2 separate regions of the Homo sapiens genome follow, and region 2 is linked to region 1. Evidence: fine-mapped expression QTL. A gene starts in region 1. The other region holds a variant in brackets. All regions are shown on one strand. Distances are between the middles of the regions.

Region 1 (2,916 bases):
AGCCGTAGACTCACACAGTCATGAACCAAAGGACTCTACCTGAGAGGTAGAATATGTGAGAGACCGATCCTCCACACATTCTACCTCATCTCCCCAAAAGTTACAAACTATCATCATTTTATGCCACAGTGTGACTACCACATGTTTGTTGATTTTTACTGTTTTACTCAGAGTGGTGAGCATTAAAGCCCTTTAAATTAAAAAGACTTGAGTATTTACTTGGGGGAATAGCAAGAAAGTCAAAGGTTTCACTGCTGTTTCTCAGCTGGCATAAGAAGAGAGGTACTGGATGAAGAAAGAGGGTGAGGCAGCTCTAACAGGAGAAGGAAAGTTAGCTCAGCCCTTGGTCACACACCGGGGACCGAACAGGCTGTGGCAGAGGAATGGACCTTAACTCTTAGCAATCAGATGTGTTAAGGTTCCTTTGATGCTGAAGCACTTCCAGCCTCTTCTCAGACCCTCATTCAGAGACCCCAGACAGCAATCCTTTCCAAGCTTTTCTTCCTATAATTTTGATCTATCTTTTCTTTGGGTCAATGACAATATCATTTACCTTGGCTCAGGATGCAACACCTCACATATACAGAGGTCTCAAAGAATGCCTAAGGGAGTACAGTGTGTCTGAGCATAAAATGCAGCAGCTGTCAGTGTAGAGCTTCTTCTTATTCAAAATGAAAAAACAAACACTTTTCCACAACTTCATGGACCACCAACCACGGGACAAAATATGAGGAGCCTACTTCTCTTGCTCCCCAGGTTCCTGTTTTGATCACATCCCCGTGGGAAAGGAGATGAAGCTCCATTCATCAGTGCTAAGAAAGGCTCCCCAACCATGCCATGGCCATGCTATTGGAATGGAAATACCTGCTTTCCAGACACCAGATCTGGCTTCTAGGGTTGAACTACATCCCGTCTCCCCTTTCCCAACTGACCATGCCTTCAGTGCACAATCACAGATACACAGTTGGTGGAAAGTACCTTGAATGCTGGTCACCAGGAGTGACAGAGGCAGCAGTAGCAATTCCAGAGCCAGACACGAATCCCAACCTCTGGAGCACATGCTTCCTTCCAGAACTTCCCAGCAACGCAGGAGACAGTTGAGAGCCTGGCTAGAAAAAGGCCGGGGCTAAAAACGGAACTTACCAAACAGGGTTAGAGAGAAAAAAAAAAAAACCACTGAGATTTTCTCTCCACCCAGCACACTTGTGTGGGGCCCCAGAAACCAGAAACCGGAGGTCTTGTAAATTTTTTTATCTAAGAGCATCACGGAAACTGAGAACAATTTTGTTTGAAGGTACATGAGTGCTTTTTTGTAGGGGGAAGATTCATAGCTTCTACTGTACTCTCAGGGGGGCCAGTACTCAGAAAAGAATAAGGGACCCTGATAGAGAATGTCTGCTTTTCGTTCCCAGGCAGGAATCCCTCTGATTAATTCAGGGGCTAAGACATAGGAGCTTCCCAGTCAAGCCTGGGTAGGTGTCATTCAGAGCCTGAAGTCTGGGAAATCAGACCCACGTAGCCTTTGTGCTGCATATCTTACCCCCAGCACCACCCTCTGCTCTTCTTCCTTTATGATAATTCACTATTTGAAGTTTGACATCAGCCTATCCACTGAACATCAGAAAAAAAGTAAGATTACTTGGCCCAAAAGAATGGATTTCCCACCCTTGTAGTCTGTATTAGTCTGTTCTCACACTGCTAATAAAGACATACCCCAGACTGGGTAATTTATAAAGGAAAGAGAGGGGTTTTGTTTTGTTTTGTTTGTTTTGGTTTTTTTTTTTTTTGAGATGCAGTCTCACTCTGTAGCCCAGACTGGAGTGCAGCAGTGCAATCTCAGCTCACTGCAACCTCCACCTGACAGGTTCAAGCAACTCTCCTGCCTCAGCCTCCTACATAGCTGGGATTACAGGCAAGCACCACCATGCCCAGCTAATTTTTGTATTTTTAGTAGGGTTTCACCATGTTGGCCCGGCTGGTCTTGAACTCCTGACCTCAAGTGATCCACCTGCCTCAGCCTCCCAAAGTGCTGGGATTATAGGCATGGGCCTGTGCCTGGCCAGGAAAGTGGTTAAATTGACTTCTAGTTCAGCATGGCTTGGGAAGCCTCAGGAAACCTACAATCATGGTGCAAGGGGAAGCCAATACGTCCTTCTTCACACGGTGGCAGGAAAGAGAAGCACTGAGCAGCAATGGGGAAAGCCCCTTCCTTATGAAACCATCAGATCTAGTGAGAACTCACTATCACGAGAACAGCATGATGGTAACTGCTCGTATGATTAACTTACTTCCTACTGGGTTGCTCCCATGATATGTGGGGATTATGGGAACTACAATTCAAGATGAGATTTGGAAGGGAACACAGCCAAATCATATCATGTCTAGGAAATTTCAAGCTCATTCCTATTGAATGTAAATTAGTTATTTGCCCACCCAGGACCCACAGGCAAGCCACAGTTCCTGATATAACATATTTGTAATCACTTTTTAATTGGGGACATTTCTGATTCTCAACATGGAGATGAACAATAAAATGTCTGCTCTTCTCAGTCCTCAAACCTGAAGGACATTATGTTAAGTGAAATAAGTCATGCACAGAAAGATAAAAAACCACGTTCCCAATCATATATGGAAGCTTAAAAAATGAGCTCATAGAAGTAGAGAGTAAAATTGTGGTTATCAGAGGCTGGGAAGGGTAGAGGGAAGTGGAGGATGGGAAGAAGTTGGTTAATAGATACAAAGTTACAGCTAGAGAAGAGGAATAAGTTCCAGCATCCTGTAGCACTATGGAGTGAATACAGTTAAGAATAATTTAATGTATATGTTCAAAAAGCTAGAAGAGAGGATTTGGAATGTTCCCAACACAAAGAAATGATCAATGTTTGAGGTGATAGGTATCCTAATTGCTTTGATTTG
Region 2 (2,916 bases), 33 kb before region 1:
ATGCAGGCTGCTCAGAGGTGAGTTCGGATGGGGATGCAGGCTGCTTAGGGGTGAGTTCAGATGGGGATGCAGGCTGCTCAGAGGTGAGTTCAGATGGGGATGCAGGCTGCTCAGAGGTGAGTTTGGATAGGGATGCAGGCTGCTCAGGGGTGAGTTCGGATGGGATGCAGACTGCTCAGAAGTGAGTTTGGATGGGGATGCAGGCTGCTCAGAGGTGATTTTGGATGGGACTACAGGCTGGGCTCAGGGTGGGGGGTTTCTTCGGAAGCCCAGGCTGTCTTGTGGAAAAGACAAAACCCTACCTTTCTTATCATGCTTGTGCAATGTAGGGCAGGCAGCTGCCTTCCAAACAATGGCTCCGATGCAGTTCCTTGCATCATATAGCCAGACTTCCGAAGTCCTTCACTCCTGCCACATCCATGCCGCCCACTTTCTATTGGACAGATTTCATCACATGGCTCCAGCTAAACACAAAAGTAGCTGGGAAAAAGAGTTTTTTCACTCACCCAGGGGAAAATGAGAAGGTTTGGCAAACACATAGCACTGTATCTGTCACCGAGGAGATGGGGTGAGGAGGGAAGGGCCACGAGGGAGATGGGGGAGGCTGGTCTGGTTTGAAAGGCAAGCAGTCTGTGGTGGGCAGTTTTCTGAAGGGGAAGTGCATTCTGTAGTGACCCTTTCAGCTCCAGGCACATGAGGAGACTTAGAGGAGGGGACATTAAGCAAAAATCCCAGGTGTTATGTCAGTGGTGGGCCTGGGGGCGCCTACCTGCATATAGTGGACAACTCTGGTGAGAACACTGTGTCGATCTGATGGTTTTTTTGGATCCAGTGAAACGACTAGGAGTTGAAGACTTGCCCACACAGTCAATGGAAAAGAGGAGAGAGAATTCAGCTCCCTATGCGAGGCTTGTGGGGCAGGAAGGCTTCTTATGAGATAGAGCTGCATCCTTCCTTCTGCGAGAGCAAGCCTGAACCTATGTTTGCAGCAGACTTAAGGAGAGTGGTCCTCAGAGGGGTCAGAGCAAGGCAAGCCACTGGGAAGGAGGCAAAGGCTTGGCAGGGGAGCTGGAGCCCCAGGAAGCTTAGCATGGATGTTGGAATAAGGGTCAGAAGTAGCACAAATTGGCTCCTCAGCTGTGTTGACACACAGGAGCCGGTGGCTCCAGGCTCTCCCCTCTGTGTCTCCAGATTCCAGTTTCTCCCAGCTGATGGAGCAGGCACTGTCTGACAGATTTGGGACAACTTCAGGAATTCAGTTAATTGA[C/T]AATTATATCAAATGTTTATTTTAAAAAATAATAAAACATTCACATAATGTTGTCACAATTTTGGGTGGGAAAAAAGCATGTGTATCTCTATATCTCTGTGTACTAGAAAACAACAAAGGGATATAAAATTAAATAATAACCAGTATTTAAAAGTTAACTTGAAAATCCTCGTTGATAATTCAGCAGCATGCTTCTGGTCAGCCTATACAGTCTCTGTCCTGGTGAGGAGCATGATCACCAACAGGCAAGATCTTCTGGCCTTGAAGTTTCGCTTGAGTTAAAAGAGCTCATCTCAGGTAAGTAACAGGCCAAGAATGGTGGGCACCGTGACCACTAGCCAACTTGCAATCCATTCTACTCCAAAGGACCGGGCTGAAAGAGCAAGAAAACCCTATATGCTTAGGTATCTTTATCTTGACTAATGTATTGAGAAGGGGCAAGTGTACTGGACACTGGTGTGGGAGCTCACAGAGCAGGGAAATTAATTTCTTCCCTGAATCCCATCCTATTTGGCTGGGACATTCTTTTCCTCAATCTCCCCAAACATAAAGTATAAAAAATGCAGAAATTCCTTAAATATCACTGGCTTACCTGGGCCCTGTGCTCAAAGGTTACCTCGACATATCTGTGGCCTGGGAAAGCATTGCTCCCCTACTCTGGACATCAACGAGGTAGGGTAGATCTTCAGGTACAGACAGATGACCACATGATACAATGCACAGCTGACTTTAGAGAGAAAAGGACCACTTCCTTTCCTTGTTTCTCTACCCCACTAAGTATCTGCACCAACTAGGAAGAAGAAGGGAAGAGAAAGGAAGACAGAAAAGGAAAGGAAAAGAAAAAGGATGGAAGGAAAGCTTAGATGCTGGGGTGGGGAAGGGCTGAGCTGGAGAAAATAAAAAAAAGGAATGAGTGATACAGTAGGGAAAGGAGTTTGAGGGGGCTTTCTAGGATAATTTCGGTGACTAAAAAGTGACAGATGGGTTTACCCTTCCAAAAAAAATGGATTTATTATTGCTTTTATCCTCTCTTCGGATGAACAGTCACACCCATTTTATAGAGGACAGGGAATGTGCGTCTTCCTTTTTCTGGATCTCAGGATGTGATATTGATATGAGGGTGGTGTTGGAACCACCAGCCAAATTGTGTTCTCATGGTCAGATACCACACTGTCACAGTGGGTCTGTGGTGGCAGAAGAGCAAGGCATATCAGGAGAGGCTGGTAGAGACAGGGCCAATTAGTTAGGAAGAATAAGGAAGAGCATACACAGTCTCCGTAGTCCACATGTGGGAGTAGAGATAAAGAAATCAGTGCAGTTAAGGAGGGTAGACAGAGCCCAGGAAGACCACAAAACAGCAACGTTCTCAGAGGCCAGAATCCCTGATGACTGGGCATGACAGGGGTCACAGGTGAATGTGAGCACCTCAGGTCTGAGTTATTCTAGAAGAATGTGTACGCTAGGGCTCAGGGATCTGACTTCAGGATTGTGGAGGGTATCTGACTCTGGTATTTCCCAGAGTGCTGGAGATATTGATCCAAGTTTATTAAGGGTCCCCAAAACTCTAAGAGACTGCGTCTCATTTAGCTCCCGCTTACTAAGGACTTGTCAGCCACTGTGATAGGCAGTTACGTGTCTTGTCTCATTGA

The links. PIP is the estimated chance that this variant, and not a neighbour inherited with it, causes the effect.
Region 2: its variant is fine-mapped to the expression of CD48 in whole blood (TOPMed, PIP above 0.99). The same link has a PIP of 0.9 or more in blood mononuclear cells and monocytes.

The regions. Positions count from the first base shown.
Region 1 is chr1:160,710,704-160,713,619 of GRCh38, forward strand. CD48 (CD48 molecule) reads right to left here and starts at 1,119. Exons shown (of 4, transcript NM_001778.4): 1 at 979-1,119. The coding sequence starts at 1,060. RefSeq lists enhancers at 1,368-1,547, 2,088-2,147.
Region 2 is chr1:160,677,492-160,680,407 of GRCh38, forward strand. It overlaps CD48 (CD48 molecule), which reads right to left. Exons shown (of 4, transcript NM_001778.4): 4 at 1,255-1,640. The coding sequence ends at 1,561. Among named protein-coding and RNA genes, the nearest start is that of SLAMF1, 32 kb to the left of the region's middle. The variant C/T (reference allele first, on the strand shown) is at 1,268.